3 linked regions of the Homo sapiens genome follow. The protein of the gene in region 3 purifies or fractionates together with the protein of the main gene of each other region. This does not show direct contact. Each region holds a gene or a part of one and is shown on either strand. Other genes may lie near its edges.

The links.
Region 1: the proteins of RAB3IL1 (region 3) and TMEM102 purify together in Homo sapiens (affinity purification with mass spectrometry; 4 studies listed by BioGRID and IntAct, with this or other methods). This does not show direct contact.
Region 2: the proteins of RAB3IL1 (region 3) and PPFIA3 purify together in Homo sapiens (affinity purification with mass spectrometry; 3 studies listed by BioGRID and IntAct, with this or other methods). This does not show direct contact.

What each region holds. Positions count from the first base shown.
Region 1 is NC_000017.11:7,433,381-7,437,124, reverse strand, and holds the start of TMEM102 (transmembrane protein 102), read right to left. Parts: upstream 1,691-3,744; 5' UTR 1,429-1,690; exon of another isoform or gene 1,273-1,428; 5' UTR 1,254-1,272; coding exon 1,040-1,253; intron 932-1,039; coding exon 1-931.
Region 2 is NC_000019.10:49,129,428-49,133,171, forward strand, and holds part of PPFIA3 (liprin-alpha-3), read left to right. Parts: coding exon 1-27; intron 28-565; coding exon 566-640; intron 641-950; coding exon 951-1,172; intron 1,173-3,573; coding exon 3,574-3,720; intron 3,721-3,744. UniProt on the Homo sapiens protein: May regulate the disassembly of focal adhesions. May localize receptor-like tyrosine phosphatases type 2A at specific sites on the plasma membrane, possibly regulating their interaction with the extracellular environment and their association with substrates.
Region 3 is NC_000011.10:61,915,717-61,919,460, forward strand, and holds the start of RAB3IL1 (guanine nucleotide exchange factor for Rab-3A), read right to left. Parts: upstream 1,851-3,744; 5' UTR 1,652-1,850; coding exon 1,641-1,651; intron 1-1,640. UniProt on the Homo sapiens protein: Guanine nucleotide exchange factor (GEF) which may activate RAB3A, a GTPase that regulates synaptic vesicle exocytosis. Promotes the exchange of GDP to GTP, converting inactive GDP-bound Rab proteins into their active GTP-bound form.

The sequences.
Region 1 (3,744 bases), on a different chromosome or scaffold from region 3:
AGCGGCGCTGGTATGCGCGCTTTGAGCGCCAGCTCCTGGCGGGCAAAACAGAGCTGCCAGGCGGAGGCGCACGGCCGCTCGGTGCCGCCACCGGGCACCAGGTAGAAGGAAGCCGACTCAGAGGCCAGCGGACCGGCCCACGAGTGGCTCCGAGCCCCCTCGGGCCAGCCCGCCACGGACACCACTGGGATCAGGTCGAAGAGCAGGAGGCGGCGAGGGGGCTCAGGGGTAGCCAGGAGGACGGTGGTGAAACCCGCGTGGCGAGCTGCGTGCACCAGACGCGGAGCACCCGGGACAGGGATCAGAGACTCGGCGACCGCCGCCAGCGTAGCAAAGAACCAGGCAGCCACCTGGGCGGAACATAATGTGGGCCACGCTTCCCGAGCCTCCGACGGCTTTGGGACTGGGCTTTCGACGGCTGCCTTGGTGACGTCACTACTCATTGTTTTCAAAGGTGCGGTAGAGCCAAGGTCGACGACGTCATGCTGAGGCGACTCGGACGCTGAAACGTCACTAGGCGATTTTTCCAAAGACACCGGCGCCTCGTGCTCAGTGACGTAGCTGTGCGGCTGGTCTACAGAGCTTTGCCAGTCCTTGGAACTTTCTTCGCTCTCCGTTCGGTGGATCGAATCACGTGCTCCTGGGACTGGGGGTCCTAAGCAATCCTGCCACATCTCCCGGATGGGGGTTCCGCACACCATCTCTGGGAGGCAGACCTGTGCGTAACAGGATTCCAGGTCCAGTTGCAGTTCAGTGCCGTCCAGTGAAAACATGGGCACTAGGAGTGTGAAGCCGGCATCGTAGTGAGGTCCCCGGGCGTAGGGACCCAGGGGTGCATGCCCCAGATCCAGGGAGCCCTCGCGAATCCCACCACGAAGCAGCAAGAGCTCTGCCTGGGGAGGAAAGCGAGGGTCCCGGCGGTGAACTAGACCTAAAAAAAGGGAACGGATCGTGAGGGCGTCGCCCAAAGCCGGGGCGGGGGCGGGGGCGTGGTGAGGCTGAGAGCTGTGAGTTCCCAAAGGCAAGTAGGGTTACTTACCAAGCAAAGAGAAGACAAAGTCCTTGGCCCGGAGGAGATCGGCTCCCGGCTTGGGCCCGTCACTCCAGCTCTCCTGCACACCCAGCTCCTGGATCAGCTGGGTCAATTCCTGCAGCTGCGCCCCGGAGCAGAAGTCGATGTCCGTGAGCGGCCGAGCTGGGGCCGGGGGCGGCGGGCCCCACCAGGGGGCACTCCCCCAGACTGCGGAAGCCATGCGGTTCTATCGCTTTGGGCTGCGGAAAACACGGAAGGGAGGTGGCTTTGCTGCCACAAAGTCGTCCCCGTTCTTCCCTCTTCCTGAGGCCGAGCGAGTGCCCCAGACACAACCTACAAATGGGTCTGTAGATGATGGGTTCTAAATTTAGTCCTCAAAATGAACAAATAAATACCTCTTCTATCCTGGCCCTTTTCTCATAGGCAGGTCCCCGCCCCCATGAACTGGTTCACCGGACTCAGCAGGTAAAAAGTAACTGTTGGCTCCTCCTACGGAATGCAGTAGCCAGCCTCCGCTGCCGCCCCTTGTCTACCTCCCTTTACCTCTTTTTTGGAAGAGGCTTATTAGTCTGCGGCTTCCCCCTTATGGGAAGCAGTAAGGGTGGGGAGCAGAAATAGATTCAACAGGTTACTTCTTCCTGATGCCCACGTGGCCACGCCCCTACATTTTCAGCCACGCCCCTTTCTGGAGGCTGTCGAGGTGGTTTCCGCCGGGTCGGGTCGCCAGTCAGAGCTCAATCACTCTTTTGGCCCTGCTGAAATCCCGCGTTATCCTGGGAGTTGTAGTTTCCCGCTCTACTAGGGCGTGGTAGCCACGCCCCCACATCCTTTCCTGTTCCGCTGAAGTAGTGCCTGATGGAAGTTGTAGTTCCTCTGGAGACAGATTATTCTGTGTCTTTTCACACCCATATCAACCCCACTCAAACATTCCTTGGGGTTTGAGAGGGGTAATAGGATGGCTCTGAGTCGCAAAAAATAATGAGGGATGGGCCGGGCGCGGTGGCTCCCGCCTGTAACCCCAGCACTTTGGGAGACTGAGGCGGGTGAATCACCTGAGGTCAGGAGTTCAAGGCCAGCCTGGCCAACATTGCGAAACCCTGTCTCTACTAAAAATACAAAAATTAGCCGGGCGTGGTGGCAGACGCCTGTAATCCCAGCTACTTAGGAGGCTGAGGCAGGAGAATCACTTGAACCTAGGAGGGAAAGGGTGCAGTGAGCTGAGATTGTGCCATTGCACTCCAGCCTGGGTGATAAGAGCGAAACTCCACCCTAGGGCCTGGGGAGAGATAGGGACCCCTGCCTGGGTGGGGTGGGGGGGGTGCATCTTGGAATCCCAAAAGTGGTAGTGTTAGGCAGGAGCACACAGATGGTGACCCAGAAATGGACGTTTGACTCATAGGAGAGACATACATGTTAGTGATGCCCACCTCAGCTCACTGCTACCTGAGTCGTGGCAGGGAAAACACTTTGGGATCTCAAATTTTTGTTTTGTTTTGTTTTGTTTTTGAGACTGAGTCTCGCACTGTTGCCCAGACTGGAGTGCTGTGGCGCAATCTCCGCTCACTGCAACCTCCACCTCCCGGGTTCAAGCAGTTCTCCTGCCTCAGCCTCCCGAGAAGCTGGGATTACGGCGCCTGCCACCATACCTGGCTAATTTTTTGTATTTTTAGTAGAGACAGGGTTTCACCATGTTGGCCAGGCTGGTCTTGAACTCCTGACCTCAGGTGATCCTCCCACCTCGGCCTCCCAAAGTGTTGGGATTATAGGCACGCGCCACTGCACCCGGCCTGGGCCACGACTTCTTACATTCCTTCTGCCCTTGGTCTGTCTCCAGGACGGGATAGGCCTAAGTCCATGGATAAGATAATTAAGGAGGACATCTAGGAAAATTAGAGGCCTGTAAAAGAAGAGACTCCCCAACTGTAGAGATCAATTTGGCAAGCCCAGGACTCAGGGGTTCCTCGTCACTGACAGAGAGTTTTCTCCTTCAGCAACCAGAGCTGGGGTCCCTGGGAGAAGCGAGAGCACCAAAGCAGCCCAGAACTGCGCAAGTAGGTTCCCGTACACACACATCTGGCTGTGACCCAAGAGGCCAGATCAGGAGAACTGGAGACTGGGCTGTTTCTCACAGTCTGGAGTAACCAGGCATCAGACATCCCTGCATCTCACCTCCTTCCCAGAGGGTGGCTTCCGAGGCACTCTAAAAAGAACTAAGTTCTCTGGACTCTGTGGAAGCTTTGAAGATGTTAAGAATGGGTGACAAGGAATAGTTCCTCTAAACTCTAAAGCATGGCTCTCCAATATAATTTTCTGTGACGATAGCAATGTCCTGAGTTGGTCCTGTCTGATACAGTAGCCACCAGCAGCCACCTGTGGCTGTTGAGCACTTGAAATGTAGATAATGTGGCCAGGCGCCCTGGCTCACGCCTGTAATCCCAACACTTTGGGAGGCCGAGGCGGGTGGATCACTTGAGGTCAGGAGTTCGAGACTAGCCTGGCCAACATGGTGAAACCCCATCTCTACTAAAAAGACAAAAATTAGCTGGGCGTGGTGGTGCACGCATGTAATCCCAGCTACTCAGGAGGCTGAGGCAGGAGAATCGCTTGCTTGAACCTGGGAGGCAGAGGTTGCAGTGAGCCGAGATCGCGCCATTGCACTCCAGCCTGGGTGACAGAGCGAGACTCTGTCTCAAAAAAAAGAAAAAAAGAAA
Region 2 (3,744 bases), on a different chromosome or scaffold from region 3:
GAGGAGCTGGAACTGAGCAATCAGGAGGTGTGGGTGTGGCCAAGACAGGGAATTTGAATCCAAGGGGAGGGGCTAAGGGGCTGCCCACGGGGCGGAGCCGGTTGGGTGGGTTCCAGAGAGAATCTATTGGGGCAGGACTAGGGCAGACAAGCTATGGGGTTGGACTATGGAGAGAAACCAGTGGGGTTCCTAAGTGGGCACGCATTGCGCAGGGCTACGGGGAGAATCTCCCAGTGAGAGTGAGATTAAGGGTAGAACCAGGGGCTGGGGCTCAGGCTGGGACTAAGGAGGAAGTGATTGAATGGGGAAAAGCGGGGCTAAAGCGGAAACTTTGTCCAGGAGGCTAAGGGGAAGAGTAAGGGTAGACGCCCTCCGTGGTGGCAGCTAAGGAGGGATATAAGGAGGGAGGGAGCCTAAGGGTAAACCGTGGGGTAGGCATGGCCCCAGCACGACCGGAGGCATCTCATATGGGGCCGCCTATCCCCTTAGAGGGCCAATGCCAGTGAGAACTAGAGCTGGGGGTTCAGGGAGCCCCTGTGCTCTGATTCCCCTTTCACACTTCCAGACTCTGAACCTTCGAGAACAGCTGTCTAGGCGGCGGTCAGGGCTGGAAGAGCCGGGCAAGGATGGGGATGGGCAGGTGAGACATGGAAGTCCCCTCTCCGTGAGCTCCATTCAACTCCCTGACTTTGTGATAGTGTTTGTAACGTTTGGTATCATCCTCACTGGCCCTAAGACGGCTGCACCTGTAAGAGTGTCACAGAGCTTGGACCTCTGATTCAGGTCACCTAGCGAACTTCTGTGACCTCCTTCACTGACCCCCGTGGACTCTGACCAGCATGATCCTTATTGATCTTTGATCTACTTTCAGCTGATTGACTTTCTCCTTGGATTTCCTCTGTGTCTCCGGAGACACTCTGGGATCTTGTCCCCTCCTTCCCTCACTCCAGACTCTTGCCAATGGCCTGGGTCCTGGCGGGGATTCCAACCGGCGCACAGCAGAGCTGGAGGAGGCCCTGGAGCGGCAGCGCGCCGAGGTGTGCCAGCTGCGGGAGCGCCTGGCGGTGCTGTGCCGTCAGATGAGCCAGCTGGAGGAGGAGTTGGGCACCGCGCACCGTGAGCTGGGCAAGGCAGAGGAAGCCAACTCCAAGCTGCAGCGCGACCTCAAGGAGGTGAGGCCCCCAGGGAGGCGGGCTGCCCTGGGTCCCTCGCCTTTCCGTAGAGCTCTCCCTCGCGCATTGCTCATGAATGGCGGAACCTCGATTCAGTCCACAGGCTGGGTGACTCCTCTTTGAGATTCAGTTTTCCCACCTGTGAAAGGAAATGTATGATTCTCATCAGAGGGTGAGCCTGTGGCGCAGAGTAGGCGCTCCATAACTGCTCGTAATTACTTTGTTACCTAACTTTGGGTTCTTCTCTGGTGCCTCTAAATGGATTTTTTTTTTCTTTTGTGAGGCAGAGTCTGGCTGTGTCGCCCAGGCTGGAGTGCAGTGGCGTGATCTTGGCTTACTGCCACCTCTGCCTCCCGGGTTCAAGAGATTCTCCTGCCTCAGCCTCCCAAGTAGCTAGAACTACAGGCACCTGCCACCATGCACCGCTAATTTTTTTTTTTTTTTTTGTATTTTTAGTAGAGATGGGGTTTCACTATGTTGGCCAGGCTAGTCTTGAACTCTTGATCCGCCCACCTCGGCCTCCCAAAGTGTTGGGATTACAGTAGTGAGCCACCGCACCCAGCCTCTTTTTTTTTTTTTTTTTTTTTGAGATGGAGTCTAGCTGTGTCGCCCAGGCTGGAGTGCAGTGTCGGGATCTTGGCTCACTGCAACCTCTGCCTCCCAGGTTCAAGCGATTCTCCTGCCTCAGCCTCCCTAGTAGCTGGGACTACAGGTGTGCACCACCACACCTGGCTAATTTTTTTTTTTTTTTTTTTTTGTATCTTCAGTAGAAATGGGGTTTCACTATATTGGCCAGGCTGGTCTCGAACTCCTGACCTCAAGTGATCAGCTCGCCTCGGCCCAAAGTGCTGGGATTACAGGTGTGAGCCACTGCGTCCAGCCTCTAAATGGAATGTTTTGTGGGTATTTCACCCCTTTCTGGCTTAGGCCGCTTTATCCTAATCCCAGTGACCCCAGGGAGCTGCTGGGAAATGTGGACCTGGATTCTTGAAGGCAGTGGATGAGAAAGAAGAGTGAGCACTAGGACTAGCCTGGGCAACATAGCGAGACCCCGTCACTACTTAAAAAAAAAATTAGCCGGGCGTGGTGGTGGGTGCCTTTAGTCCCAGCCACTAGAGAGGCTGAGGCATGCCAGGTGCGGTGGTTCACGCCTGTAATCCCAGCACTTTGGGAGGCCGAGGCGGGCGGATCACGAGGTCAGGAGATCAAGACCATCCTGGCTAACTCAGTGAAACCCCGTCTCCACTAAAAATACAAAAAATTAGCCGGGCGTGATGTCGGGCGCCCGTAGTCCCAGCTACTCGGGAGGCTGAGGCAGGAGAATGGCGTGAACCCGGGAGGCAGAGCTTGCAGTGAGCCGAGATAGTGCCACTGCACTCCAGCCCGGGCAACAGAGCGAGACTCCGTCTCAAAAAAAAAAAAAAAAAAAAAGTTGAGGCATAAGAATCACTTGAGCTTGGGAGGTGGAAGTTGCAGTAAGCCGAGATCCGTACCACTGCACTCCAGCCAGAGTGCTGGTTGCTCATGCCTGTAATCCCAGCACTTTGGGAGACCAAGGCAGGCACATCACCTGAGGTCAGGAGTTCAAGACTAGCCTGGCCAACATCGTGAAACCCCCGTCTCTACTGAAAATACAAAAATTAGCCAGGCATGGCAGCGGGTGCCTGTAATCCCAGCTACTTGAGAGGTTGAGGCAGGAGAATCGTTTGAACCCAGGAGGTGGAGGTTGCAGTGAGCCGAGATCGCACCACTGCACTCTAGCCTGGGTGACGGAGCAAGACTCTCTCTCTCAAAAAAAAAAAAAAAAAAAAAAAAAAAAAAGAAAGAGAGAGAGAGAACCTTCATCTGGGATTTTAAGCCTGGATAGCCGCAGGGGCTATTGGGAAATGTAGCCCCACCACGTGGGCTACCAGATGAGGGTCCATCTCCCATAAGAAGTTGAAGCACTTCTTTTGGGGTTCTAGGCCTCTGGTACCCTGGTAGCTCTTGAGAGGTGTTGCCTTCTAGGTAGAAGGGATCCTTATTTCCCATGAGACCCCAGGACACTTGCTGTTTGATTCTAAGTCTGCTCTATGCCAGAAATTAGTGAGAAATCCAAGGCCTGGGTTTTGAGGAGAGGGCTGGAGTGGAGACTTCACATCCCACAGGCCTCAGATCCTCTGAACCTGGAGGATCTGAGCCTGCAGTGTCCTAGAAGCTCATGGGAGGTGTAGCATCACCATTTTAACTCGCAGGTAGGTGGCAGGGACTTAAGATGGGCTAGTCCTGGGAGCTCTTAGCGGGTGTGACACCACCATTCTGACTCCCATGTCAGGGCACTTTGTTTCCCAGGGAACAAGGGGGTTCCCCGTCCTCTCCCCCAGGGGCTCGCAGTCCACGGGGCCCTTTGCTACCTCCGCAGGCGCTGGCGCAGCGGGAAGATATGGAGGAGCGGATTACAACACTGGAGAAGCGCTACCTGAGCGCCCAGCGGGAGGCCACGTCTCTGCACGACGCCAACGACAAACTGGAGAACGAGTTAGCTAGCAAGGAGTCGTTGTATCGGCAGGTGGGGGCGCGGCCGGGAGGGGCG
Region 3 (3,744 bases):
GTGGCCTTCAACTCTCTCCCTTTAAGAGTCTCAAGCCCAGGCCGGGTGCAGTGGCTCACACCTGTAATCCCAGCACTTTGGGAGGCTGAGGCGGGCGGATCACAAGGTCAGGAGATCGAGACCATCCTTGCTAACATGGTGAAACCCTGTCTCTACTAAAAACACAAAAAAATTAGCTGGGCGTGGTGGCGGGCGCCTGTAGTCCCAGCTACTCGGGAAGCTAAGGCAGGAGACTGGTGTGAACCTGGGAGGTGGAGCTTGCACTGAGCCGCGCCACTGCACTCCAGCCTGGGCGACAGAGTGACACTCTGTCTCAAAAAAAAAAAAAAAAGAGTCTCAAGTCTTAGGGCAGGGCGTGGTGGTAAAAGCCTGTAATCCTAGCACTTTGGGAGGCTGAGGCTGGTGGATCACCTGAGGTCAGGAGTTCGAGACCAGCCTGATCAATATTGTGAAACCCCGTCTCTACTAAAAATACAAAAATTAGCCGGGTGTGGTGGTGTGTGCCTGTAGTCGCAGCTACTCAGGAGGCTGAGTCAGGCGAATTGCTTGTACTCAGGCAGCGGAGGTTGCAGTGAGCTGAGATCTCGCCACTGCACTCCAGCCTGGGTGACAGAGCAAGACTCCGTCTCAAAAAAAAAAAAAGTCCCAAGCCTCTCCACACCTCACCCCTAACAGGAGCCCACTCTCTCCACACCCCCTGCTGGGGATGAAAGGCCATCCCTCCCCTAGCATCGCAGCTCAACCTTTGCTAGGTGCCATGGAGTGAAGTGGATCCTGCCTGCCTTTCCGGGGGGCTTCCCTCACTCCCCAGCTGTAGCTGGGCAGTAGCCCTCTCCTGGGACCACTCATCTGGCCCAGGGGGCACAGGAGTACAACCTGTCCCCCATTCTGGCCACATTTCCTCCACGACCTGGTCTTTCCCGGCCACGGGGAAGAGGAAGTGTTTGCCCAACTCCACAAAAACACCACAACCTTTCTGCACATACAGGGCAGGGGTCCCACATCAGATGGGCCAGGAACTGCAACTGCCCCTGAGAACCAGTGGCCTGAACAGACACAGCCACTGGGGCCACTAATCCAGGACCCAGAGTCTCTGCTACCCCACTCCAGGCTGCGGGGCCGGGGCGGGGGGGGTTCCCACTCCACACCTCTGAGAGCCTCCGTACTTCCAGAGCCCCACAAGGAGGTTCTGCCCTCAACTTGGGAGCCACCCTGGCAAAGACCCAGCCCCTCTTTCCCAGCTACACTGCTTTCCAAGAGTTCATCCAGCGAAGGGGTTGAGGGACAGGTTGGGAGGGTGGGCTGGGGGTCCTTCCTCTAGGTGCATGCCCCAGAGTCGTGCACACTCTTCCCCACACCCCAACTCTTCTCACTTGCGCTCCTGATGAGCTAAGAGGAGTTGACGCTGTCACCCCGGGACGGTCGGCTGCCCACCCTTCGCACCCTGCACCCCGAGAGACACCCCCGACCCCTCCCCCGGAGTCTCCTGGCTGCAAGTCGGCTCGCCTGCAGGCAGGGCGGGGGCGCACAGCACCTCCGGGTGGCGGCGCAGACCCGGCGGGGACCCCCGAAATCCTCCCGTCCCGGGAGGCGACCGCGGCCCAGACCCAGCGCGGGACCGCGAGCGCGCGCGGACCTACCCGCTCCACATCCCGGCGCCTCGGGGCGCCCAGGCGTCCGTTCCCAGCGCCGCCGCGTCCTCCCAGCGCCGCGTCCCCGCCCGCCGCCGACTCCGCCAGGGGCCGAGCCGCCCCACCGCCTGTCAGCCCTGCCCGCGGCCGGTCAGTAGGTCTCAGACGCCTGGGCTCGCGGCCCCCAGCCCAGCCCCGACCCTGCCCTGGGCGGGTCACGTGGCGGAGGGGGGAGCGGCCCGAGGACACGTGCCCGGCCCCGCCCCTCCGCCGGCCCGGCGCTGGGATCCGGCGCGCGCTCCCAAGGCCTGGCCCCACCCGGCCCGCCGCGCCGGGACAGGGAGACCACGGCGCTCGGAGGGAACCCGGCCCCCAACATCCCGCGGGCCGCGCCGCGCTCAGACTCCCCAGCTGACTCCTCCTCTCCAGTCGCCCTCCGCACCACCCACTTTGGGCCACCCCTGCTCAAGAACCTACAATGGCTCCCGAGCTCTCAGCTCTTCGATTCTCACACAGATTGTCACTTAAGGCCAGCAGACACCCTCCCCCCTCCTCACCCGGCCCTCCTTCCCTAGGCTGTCTGCTTAGTGCCTGTCCCTGTGCAACATCCTGCCTGCTGGGAAGGGGAGGGGACAAACCCGAAACAAGTTTTCTGAGTCCTACTCTCTGAGTTTTATCCCGAAGGAGTTTCCACTTCTGGTCCAACTCTCCTCACTCAGCCTCCTGCCACTTAACACGCTCTGCCCATCCCTGCCTTTACTCACCATCTGCCCTCTGGATAGTATTCCCCACCCCACCCCCACCGACACACACACATACACACACCTGTCTGGTCCCACATCCTCCGTGAAACCTTCCCTGAATCCCAGACGACTGGTCTACCTGTCCCTCAGTTCCTCTGTCCCACCCATTCTGAGTCCTGATCATTCGTCTCAACTTCAGCCTGGGACTGGACCAGTAAGAGCAGAACCCGTCTTCTCTCCCGCCAGGTACCATGGCTCCCACCTTCCCTGTCTAGGGGAGGACTGGGAGCGTGGTGGGAGGTACTTCCCCTTCTAGGTGCTACCAGAGGTCCCAGTGCTACCCCTCCAGGCCCACTGACTCAGGCCGCAGGCTCAAGTTAGTCAGATCTTCGTTTGAGGATACATTTTATTCATTCATTCTACTCATTCATACATTCAGCCACTCCATCTGAGCATAGACTATGGGGCATGCAAGGGGCTGGGGACCCAGCAGGAAACTGTACAGACATAGGTTCTGCCCTCCTGGGGCTCCACGTTGGTGGAGGATGGAGGATGGGGGACGTATTCTCTAAGACCTCCACGTCCAGGGCACAAATAGACAATGCTCTTTCCCCGCTGGGCACAGCGCACAGCAAGGTATGGAATCTGGAGAGTGGAGGCGAGGCTGGATTCTATGCCTTGCTTGCTCCCTTGGCCAGCACTTTGTGCAGTGAACAACCTAGGCAGTTCTCCATAGCATCCCTTCCAACTTTCTAGAATCATTCAGCCCAGGCGTCCCATAGCCATCACTCAGCAGGGCAGTTGTTTCCATGGCCACGGCTTCCAGAGGGCAGGGATTCTCTCTTTCTTGGAGCTATGTTCCCCTACCCCACCCCCAGCCCAGCTCAGGGTCTGGCCCACCCAAAGCAGATGTCCACATGTGTTTGCTGGCTTGAATCCCTCATCAGTTGGTCTTGAGCAACTGTTGTCTTCCTGGCCCTTATTTTGTTCACTATTTAGAGAAGGAGGAGAAAATGACACAAAAGGAACCCAGCACAGGGCCCTTGCCCTCCAAGTCTTCACAAGCCCCGGCAGGAGATAAGTCATGGCAACCCAGACCAGTGGGAGATAAAGGGTGGAGGAGGCGTCAGCTCAGGGCTATGTCCCTGGAGGAAGAGTCCTCAGCCTGGGAGGTCTGGTGGACCGGGGAGGCCCTTGAGCGAGGTCTTGAAGGACAAGTCTGTGGTCACCACTCTGGAAGCATCCACACTCAATTTCTAACCAAAAATAGCCTGTCATCCATGCTTCCTGCTACCATGGACTCCTAGGGCTCACTGCCTCCCCCAGTAGGGAGGACCCTCCTGCTCAGCTGAACTTGCTCCTCAGTTGAA